2 separate regions of the Homo sapiens genome follow, and region 2 is linked to region 1. Evidence: fine-mapped expression QTL. A gene starts in region 1. The other region holds a variant in brackets. All regions are shown on one strand. Distances are from middle to middle.

Region 1 (5,189 bases):
CTTCCTCAAAGCCTTCTGAGTCCTCCCCTTCCCTTATGGGTGAGCCCCTCCCTGCCCCTGAGATCTCTGGGGGCACCTGTGCGACTTCTTCCCGAGGTGCCCTATACAACCCCTTGCCTAGTAGATTCAGCTGTGTTTTCTCAGACACCACAAAAGGCTTGTGCATTCTCTCGGGAGCCAGCCCTGGCGGCCTGGCAGGAGGAGCTTGGAGCTCTGTGTGCTGAGGAATCTGGAGCTCGCCCAGGCTCAGGTGCAGGGTTCCATGACAGGCTAACCATGCCTGCTGGGGAGCAGGGGGCACAGCGGAGGGTCAGGCTTTGGGAATCCATGTCCCAGGCCATCGTCACAGCTACACAGCTTTCTTCTTTCCACTTCTCCCTCAGATTTTCTAGCCTTTAAATAGGGTTCCTACAGATGAAGAGAAATGTCCCAGATAGAAACCCCACTGCGGAAAGTGATCCCCTCCCTCTGGGAAATAGAATCTCTGAAGAGGATCTTAGGCAGGATGGCACGCTGTGAGTTCAATCAGCTTTCTCAAGTGTGGATCTCAGGTGAAAACCAGGCCAATTCTCACCACACATCAGGGTCTAGGCTCCGTTTCCTGGCAGTGAGTCAGAGGGGTGACCCGAGGCTAAAGGCAGGATGGCACCTGGTCTAAAAATGGCCATGGTTAATCCTCAGGGTAGCAGCAATGGCATTTTTTGAAGAGTCAGGCCAGGGTAAATAAACTCTTGAGATGTAAATGTTTAGTCTTCTTTATTTCTGCCCATCTTGAGCAGAGCCGGGCCCTAAGCTCTGAGCAGGTTTAAATTCGCACAAGTGATAGGTCCCCCCTGGAGATCCTGCATCCCAGGTGCACTCAGCCCTGGCCTACAGTTCTCCTACAAAAGGCTTGTTCCTAGAGGACATTCACACATCAGAGGGAGAGTTAAGCAACATCATTTATTTGACTCTTCACTCACTTAGCAAACTTCGACTGAGAGAAGAAATTGAGTTTGTTTGGGAGCTGGTCCCAGGGAGCAGGAGGAAGAGGAAGAGTCAGACAGGGAGGAGGCAACACAGGGTGTGTTTCTGGGCCTTTGAAAGCACGCAGATTGCCTCTCAGAATTGTCCCTCTGAAGGACGAGGCCATATGCACTAGCTCCTACCTTGGGGACACTGGTGCCCTCCCCCAAATACCCTTCAGGTGGTGCCTGCACTCAGGCTGAGGAGGAGGATGTCACGGTGTAGGTGCAGGGAAGGGTGCTATCAGGAAGCACAGCTGTGTCCACCACAGCTGGGGGCCACGGGCCTGCACCTCCACACAGGTGTTGGCTGCTGCAGCCTGGGATGGTCCTCTCTCTCCAGCCCCAGGTCCCTGTGGCTGGGCCATAGGAGTCGCTCAGAAGACTTCATCCCAAACTCACAACTACCATCCTCATCTGAACCTTTGGAAGTCATGAAAATGTGGAAGCACTGGCTGGAAGTTAGCAAGCAGGTTATTATCGAGGCAATGGCTTATGCCGTCTTCCTGGGACCTCCATGTGGAGGAAGCCGGGGCTGCAGCAAGACCTCTGTCTTCGCCCTCGCTGTGGGTCTTGGATCTCACCAGAGCAGGAATCCTTTCAGACCATGGTTTCCTGGCTTATTTGTTTTGTAAAAAATCTGCTAAAGAGGGACTAAGAAGATGTGAAAGCCACATCCACGTATTTTAAAAGTTGCACATATTTTAAAAGTTGCACATAGAACAGGGAGGAGCTTGTCCTGTGTATCCCAGAGGATAAAGCTAGGGACAAGGGTGCTCTGTGTGTGTATGTGTGTGTGTGTGTGTGTGTGTGTGTGTTGTTTTGTTTGTGGTTCTCTGTGTCATCCCCATAGGATTTGAGAATGAGGGGAAGTAAAGGAAAACAAAGGAACACTTTAGATTGTCCTCTTGAAAACTCATGGATTTCCAAGCACTGTGCTAGAAGCTGCCACATCAGCATCTTCTGGGAACTTGTTAGAAAGGGAAATTCTTGGGCCCACCTCAAACCCACTGATTCTCATACATGCTCAGGTATGAGAATCACTCTTCTAAATATAGGAAAAGATCTTTCTAACAGATATCATTGACCAAAGTTGCAGTGCCTTTCCTCATGAGGTGGTGAGTGCTACTCTTCTGGAAGCATTCAAGAGAAGGAGTAACCATTAGTCACGCATGTTGCAAAGGAAGTGAACACAACAGGTACAGAGTTCAACTGAAGTCACTTCCTTGGTTGCTCAGTATTTTAGCAAACATTTACTGACCAGCAGTACTGGGCACTGTTCACAGTGACAGGCGACAGGAATAGAAATCCACAGAAGCTCCCCGTTCTTGCCTGCTCCGAAGACTGAAGTCCAGCAGTCTCTCATGCTGTGGGCCCAGACACTGCTCTCTGTCTTGACTGCCAAACCCTGGCTGGCCAAGTGACGATTCACCATCCTTACAACATACTCCAGTCACTGAAGATTCCCCACGGAACCACCACCTTCCTGCTCAGGCCTCTTCATCTATCCAACAGGAGGAGGGGAAAGAGACCATTGACCCAGGACTGCCCTGGCGTGCATGAAGCCCTGAGTGAGGGCTGTGGCAACTTCCCGGCCTGCACACACTGCTGCTGCTTTCTTGGTGCCTATGAGTCATGCCTTGTCACCCGTGTGACATTAATCACTCAGTGGGACTCAGAAATCCAGCAGATGAATTCTGAAACTGAGTTGGGGAGGAGGCCAAATGTCTCATCGTGAGATGAGTCCCAGGGTACAGTCTCGGACAGATGAATATTCTAGATTACAAGGCTTAGCACTTTAACCAGAGAATAAATACAGACTGTGGTTGTTTCCATGTATTTAAAAAAAGTAAATTATGACACAAGTGATGCACATTTGTTCGGGGAAAGTTACAGTACAGATGGGCAAAACCAAAGAAAAAAGTGCATCAGTTCCCCTAAACTCCACCACCCAGAAACAATTGCTATTAACAGGAGGACGTGGTTTACTTCCAATGCTTTTCTGGGCACATATGTAAGTGTGTGTGTGTGGCAGTGCAACCGTGGAATCGCATTGTAAGACTTGACCCTAACACAGCTTTCCATTTAAAGTATATTGTGAATACGTTTCTACGTCAATACATTTAAATGATCAATTTTAAAGCTATCTAGCCCTCTACTGGCATCAATGCAAATTTTCCTCAGATTGTATCACGTTTAAAAAGTTTTTCTAAGATACACCACACACTCTCCTGCCTTCCCTTCCTGTTTTCTAATCCAAGTACAGAAACATGACATTGCTTGTTTCTAGGTGCCTTGGGGTCGCTGTTATTCAGTGAACCCCTCAGGATGTAAAGTTTCAATAAAGAAGCAGTTTGGTAGAGACAAAAGAGCTCCAGATTAGAAATCAGGATAGCTCTGGGCCCCTGTGCACTCAGGCTCCACATGGTTATGCACAGAACCTTCAGAACCTTCAGATTCATCACTAGCAGGATGGGTCCAGGGCGTGGGTCTTTGCTATGAGATCACCTTAGGTACCTCTGGAGGAGCTGGTCACACCAGTGATAACCCTTTGGAGAGGAGAAAGTCAATGGAGGAGGAGAAGACATGCCTCAGAATCACACCCCAGTTGTTGCTTGAAGTGTGGTCAAGGAGCTGCTTATCTCCACCCACACCTCCTCCTGGACACACAAAGGATATACATTCCTGGGCCCAGTTCAGCTCTTCCAAATTGGAACCTTTGTGGGTGAAGCACAAATAACATGCTTTTAAACAAGTACCCCTGAAGTTTGTCACAGAAAGTTGAGCTCATTGCTCCACTCCTAAAATGTCATTTCTCTTAAACATCTGAAACGGTTCTGCTCGGAGAGGCCACCTGTTGACCACTTGCTTGGCTGCTTGGCCTCGTAGGGCAGGGGGCAAGCAGGAGACAGAGGAAAGATCAGGATCGACATTTTTCTTCAGTGTTCCATAGGAAAACCATTCTTTTATGTTTCTCTTTGGCATTTGCAAATACACACCAAAGATTTGCCTCCTGTGAGTTGTTTTTTTTTTTTTTTTTTTGGCGGGGGGTGGGGGGTGGGTAGAATGTCCTTGCCCAGCCCCTTCCTCACTGATTCTTAACCCTTCCCTCTCCCCGGATCCATAGTGCGCTCAGATCCTGACCCTCTGAGACTGCCCAGCCCCGAGACCCGCCACGTCCCCGCAGAACAGTCCATGCAGCGAAAAGATGAGAAACGTGACTGTGAAGCATGGTGCCCTTGATTCGACTGCTTCATTCATTTCAGCAGATGTCACCAGGGCCCTGTAGGGAAGATTGTGCAGATCTGTGTGGTCTAAACAGACAACTTCATGTAGATTGCACTGGATTTATCTTGGCTCTGCCCAGAGGTGATTTGGCTCTGATAGGGAGCCTTCTCATGGAGTGGTTTTGGCCTCTGAGAAGTGGCAGAATTGCTGAGTTCAGCCTGATTGTCCAGGAAGAGCCACATCTTATAGATTCTAATATTTCCTCAAGATCTTGGAATAGCACTGCTATTCACCAACTGATGCTTACTTATTAATTAAACATCTGTTAAACTCTCGATAGGTGCCAGACAGTGTAGTAGGTGGCCATATATTAGAATGAATAAACAGCTGAATCATTGCAGATGAACTTTGTTGCACTTCAGATAATCAAAAACATAATTCAAACTTGTTTAGGAAAATATAATAAATTTCATATGTCGTTTAAATACATAATTAAATAGATAAGATAATAGCTATTCATTACTCACCAAAGATCTGTTTTTTATAAGCACATTTCTCATTTAAATCAAACCCCCCCATCTCTGTGAGAGCTGTTTTGATGAAAAACTTTCACAAACAAGTGGCACATTTCTCACATCTGCTTTCTTAAGCAAAGTGTTCTTGTCTGGAGTTTGATTTGATTTTCTCTGTTGTGCATTGTGCCGTGTTGGGCAAATGAACCATACAATTGCACACCCCACCAGGGTGCTCCCAGTGACCCTGCCTGGCCAGGCTTCAGGGCACTGTTTCAGCCCTTTCTCTGATTCACTGTTTCCATCAGTGCCCGTCTGGGAGCGGTTGCCATCCTGCGTGACACATACAGCACACGTGCTCTCTCTGTGAGTTCTCGCCTTCCATGCCAAGTCTGCAGACTGACTCCATCTCAACTCTGACCCTCATACCTCACGCCGTCACCCT
Region 2 (5,189 bases), 39 kb before region 1:
AGGGCAGAGGGAGATCCACGGCCCACTTGCCATGTGGCCTCACATCGAGGGACGCCGTGTGATATGGCTTGGAGACATGCACTTGACGGCAGTGACAACAGCTCTCAGCCATGTCTGGCAGCCACTTACTTTCCCCAAGCACATCATATCATCACCTGGGAACAGCAGCTCGCCTCCTTGGGAACACAGGTTTGAGGTCTCATGGCTTCCCAGGGATAGGGGAAAAATGCAGCAGAAGGATTTGGGGCCAAAACCCATTTCTTCTCCCCAGAAGGACCACCTGGAGGTCTCTCATGGTCTTCGGCTCATCTTTGCAGCAGCACTAACCAGCGTGGGCATACTCTGCTAGGACTTCTGCCTAAGGGAGAGAAGGGGTCTCTTACCTTGGTCACGCCCTTGCCTTGAGCACACGGGCGCCAAGCTTCAGAAGGGAGACAAACCCCACACGGCTATAATTAGGGGCTTTCTTAAGTCCCTGTCACGCATGATCAAGTGTGCCAGGATTCGGGATCATACTTCCTCCCAGGACTTCCAAGCTCTTGCGTGTGATCTTCTCTAAGTCTGGGGGCTGAGGAAAAGCCAGCCCTCCCCTCCCACCAGCACCCACCCAGTGCATCTCCACCCATAGCTCTCTCTCCCAGCCAGGTCTGGACCAGAGATGCCTCAAGACAGGCGACATTGGTGACATCAACGGGACCCCAGAGGGTCTTCATCTCACTCTCAGAAGCAGGCAGCATTCTGAAAATCACCCTCACGGGCCTGCCTCTGCTCCACAGGACACCCGATGGCCCGAGGAGCTCAGATTCACCTCTCCCACCAGGGTTCTCTGTTCCTTTAAAATCCCACCTTTCCTGTCCTTCTGATTCAGAGGAAGGAGTTCTCAGGACTGTGTCTCCTCCTCCACGGCCCTGGGATCTTTGCCTATAGAGCTCCTTCTCCTCCATCTGTGAGCAAACCTCCTCCCATAGGCAGAAACCACATCCACACACACAAACCCACACAACACACCAACATCACACAGACACCATGCACACTCATAAACCCACACACAACACACCAATATCACACAAACACATATAAACCCACACACAACACACTGACATTACACACACCAACATCACATACACATAAACCTACACAACACACTGACATCATACACACAGACACCACACACATAAACCCACACAACACACCAACATCACACACAGTCACCACACACACATAAACCCATACACAACACACCAAAATCAGACACACACATAAACCCACACACAACACACTGACATCACACACACTGACATGATGCACAAATATACACCCACACACAACACACTGACATCACACACACAGACACCACACACACATAAATGCACACACAACACACCAACATCACACATACACATATCAACCCACACACAACACACTGACATCACACACACCGACATCACACACATAAACCCACACACAACACACTGACATCACACACACAGACACCACACACACACACACAATCCCACACAAAACACACCATCAGACACAGACATCACACACACACACATAAACCCACACACAACACACTGATATCACACACACCAACATCACACACAAACATAGACCCACACACAACACACCAACATCACAAACACAGACACCACACACACACATAAATCCTTACACAACACGCTGACATCACACACACAGACACTATATACACACACAAACCCACACAACACACCGACATCACACACACAGACACTATGTACACAAACATCACCCACAGACACCAGATGCACACACCACACACACTCAAACTTCTCTCTTACACACACTCTTCCATCACACCCTCACAGAGTCATGACACATGAGCATACTACACACATATCACACAAATATTCACAGACACACAGACAACCCCCCCCACACACACAATGCACACACCACACAACTGTCTCCCCGGGCCCACACCCTGTCCATATACAGACCATGGAGAGCAAGAAGGGCTGAAGCTGGTCTTGCCCCTGCCTCCTGGAGGAGGAGGGTGCACCTGAAAACAGACCCAGCAAGAGATGGGAGCCCCGGGAGCAGCCCAACTCCAGGTCCTCTGCAGAAGTGTCCTAGCCGCCACCAGGCTGCCCTGCATGGCTCAGCAGTTTCCAGTGCCAGGCTGCAGGGAGGTGTGTGGGGCTGGAATGCGAAGGCAGCAGAAACCGCCCTGCTCACTCTGACGTCAAAGAAGGGAGGGAGCCATGGGCAGTTGTGGCAGCTGTGGTTCTATAC[C/T]GGTCCCAGATCTCACTGCCCATCTGCTTCCCTGCACCCGTAGGGCCTGCTGAGCTGGGCAGGGCAGCCTGGTGGCAGCTGGGTCACTCCTGCAGAGGACCTGGAGTGGGGCTGCTCCCAGGGCTTCCATCTCTTGCTGGGTCTGGTTTCAGGTGCACCCTCCTGCTCCTGAGGGTCATCCTCTCTCTCTAGAGCCCTGCCCTGGGGTTCCCTCCTTCCCTACCTGGTTATCTCCTCCTTCCGGGGATCGCCCTTAATAAACACGTGCCCCCAGTCCTCATGTCAGGGTCTGCTTCAGGAGACACAGGATGCTCGGCAGGGTCTTCCATGGTGGGGACTCCCACAGCTTCTTTCTGGCTGCCCTGCCTTCAGGCTCTGCCAGTGGTGGCTCCCATTTCCCTCTCTCCCCTAAAGAAGAGCCTCCACCAGGTCCTGTTCTGGGCCTGTCACCCAGGGTCTTTGGCTCTGTCCTTGGTGGTTCAGGTTAAACGGTGGCCCCCTCAAAATTCAAATGTCAAAGTCTTCACATGCAGTACCTCAGCAAGTGACCTGATTTGGAGTTAGGGTCTGTGAGAGGTACTCAAGTAAAAGTGAAGTCACACGGGTGGGCCCTGATCCAGTAGGACTGGTGTCTTTACAGGAAGGGGAGATCTGGAGAGAGACAGGCACAAGGGGAAGGTGATATGGAGAGCCAGGGAGCAGATGGCTGTCCACCAGCCAAGGTGGGAGGCCTGCACTGGACCTGCCAGCCACCCTCAGGAAGAGCCAGGCTGTCCAGCACCTTGATCTCAGACTTGTGACCTCCAGCCCTATGCAAGAATAAACGTCTGTGGTTTAAGCTGCCCGGGGTGTGTTCCTTGGTGACATCAGCACCAGCAGACACCCAGTGAGAAAGGCTCTGCTTTGCCTGGGCCCTTGTGGTGTCCCTTTGGTGGGCAGAGACTTGCCTGTACCCGACAGAGCCACGTGCACCTGGGTGGGGTCACCTGGTGCTCACCAATCTCTTCACCTGGAACATCAGGCCTGGCAGATGGGACCACCCGAGCATAGACTCCACCTGCCAGCCTAACCTGCTGTGAGTTCTAAGAGAAGTCTTTTGGGCAGTTGACTTTTTTTTTACTTGCGAACCTGGAGATGGAATCAGCCTAGAGTACCTGCCTGAGGCCCTGGGAGACTCTGTGGAACCGAGCCCCACCCCTTCTCGGCCTAGGGGCGAGTGTGGCTGCTGAGCAGGCCCATCCAGGCTGATGGGATGGTGGGGCCTCAGGCAAGGAGGTGACCCTGGCTGTTCCCTAGTGAAATGTAATTCCTACCTTCCTCACAGGACCCAGGGCAGCTCAGAAAACCCCTCTGAGGAGGGAAACAGTATCCAAGGAAGTAGTGCTGTGTTCTTGCCCTCTTCGCTGGTACCTGCAGGGAAGTTCTCAACATTTCAGAGCCCTTGGAGCCTCCAGTGGCCTCCTGCTGTGGTGGGAAGAGCACGGACATGAGCCAGCCAGCCAGAGCTCCAATTCCAAACCCACTGCTTACCCACTTTAAACTAACCTCACCTCAGTTTCCCCACCTGAGTGATGGGGACGAGACTATTCCCCTCAGAGTTCAGTACAATGTGGGCACTCTATCAACGTGCTTGCCAATGTTCTAGAAAACAACAGTGGCTCTGGATAATTTGAGGAGGCAGCAAGGGTAGTGATAAGGACAAAACAAAACAAAACAAAACAAAACTGGCAGGGCCACAGAAGGAGAAGGGGAAATTTAGGTAAGAACTCAGAAAAGCATCAGAGTTAGCCAGAGAAAGTCCTTTGTGAGGGGGGCTCTGTTCCAAGAAGGCTGAGTAGGAACAGCTCCAGTCTGCCGCTCCCAGCATGATTGACAGAGAAGATGGGTAATTTCCACATTTCCAACTGAGGTACCTGGTTCATCTCATTGGGACTGGTTGGACAGTGGGTGCAGCCCACGGGGGGCAAGCTGAAGCAGGCCGGGTGTTGCCTCACCTGGGAAACACAAGGGGTTGGGTGATTTCCCTTTCCTAGCCAAGGGAAGCTGTGACAGATGGTACCTGGAAAAACAGTACACTCCCACCCAAATACTGCACTTTTCCCAAGGTCTTAGCAACCAACAGACAAGGAGATTCTCTCCCGTGCCTGACTTGGCAAGTCCCATGCCCACAGAGCCTTGCTCACTGCTAGCACAGCAGTCTGAGATTGAACTGTGAGGTGGCAGCTTGGCTGGGGGAGGGGCATCCACAATTGCTGAGACTTGAGCAGGTAAACAAAGTGGCCAGGAAGCTTGAACTGGGTAGAGCCCACCAGAGGTCAGGAAGGCCTACTGCCTCTAGGCTCCAGCTCTGTGGGCAGGGCATAGCTGAACAAAAGGCAGCAGAAACTTCTGCAGACTTAAACGTCCCAGTCTGACAGCTCTGAAGAGAGCAGTGGTTCTCCCAGCATGGCATTTGAGCTCTGAGAATGAACAGACTGCCTCCTCAAGAGGGTCCCTAACCCCCATGTAGCCTAACTGGGAGACACCTTCCAGTAGGGGCTGACAGACACCCCATATAGGTGGGTGCCCCTCTGGGGCAAAGCTTCCAGAGGAAGGATCAGGCAGCAATATTTACCACCTGCAATATTTGCTGTTCTGCAGCCTCCGCTGGTGATACCCAGGCAAGTAGGGTCTGGAGTGGACCTCCAGCAAACTCCAACAGACCTGCAGCTGAGGGACCTGACTGTTAGAAGGAAAACTAATGAACAAAAAAGAATAACATCAACATCAACAAAAAGGACATCTACACCAAAACCCAATCTGTAGGTCACCAACATCAAAGACCAAAGGTAGATAAAACCACAAAGATGGGGAGACACTAGAGCAGAAAAGCTGAAAATTCTAAAAATCAGAGTGCCTCTTCTCCTCCAAAG

Evidence for each region.
Region 2: its variant is fine-mapped to the expression of LINC03125 in esophagus muscle (GTEx, PIP 0.91).

Annotation. Positions count from the first base shown.
Region 1 is chr20:23,145,491-23,150,679 of GRCh38, reverse strand. It overlaps LINC03125 (long intergenic non-protein coding RNA 3125), which reads right to left and starts at 2,577. Exons shown (of 6, transcript NR_199692.1): 1 at 2,266-2,577. RefSeq lists enhancers at 1-434, 1,929-3,128.
Region 2 is chr20:23,184,952-23,190,140 of GRCh38, reverse strand. LINC03125 (long intergenic non-protein coding RNA 3125) reads right to left here. Exons shown (of 6, transcript NR_199692.1): 5 at 2,501-2,826; 6 at 1-358. Among named protein-coding and RNA genes, the nearest start is that of LINC03125, 39 kb to the right of the region's middle. The variant C/T (reference allele first, on the strand shown) is at 2,278.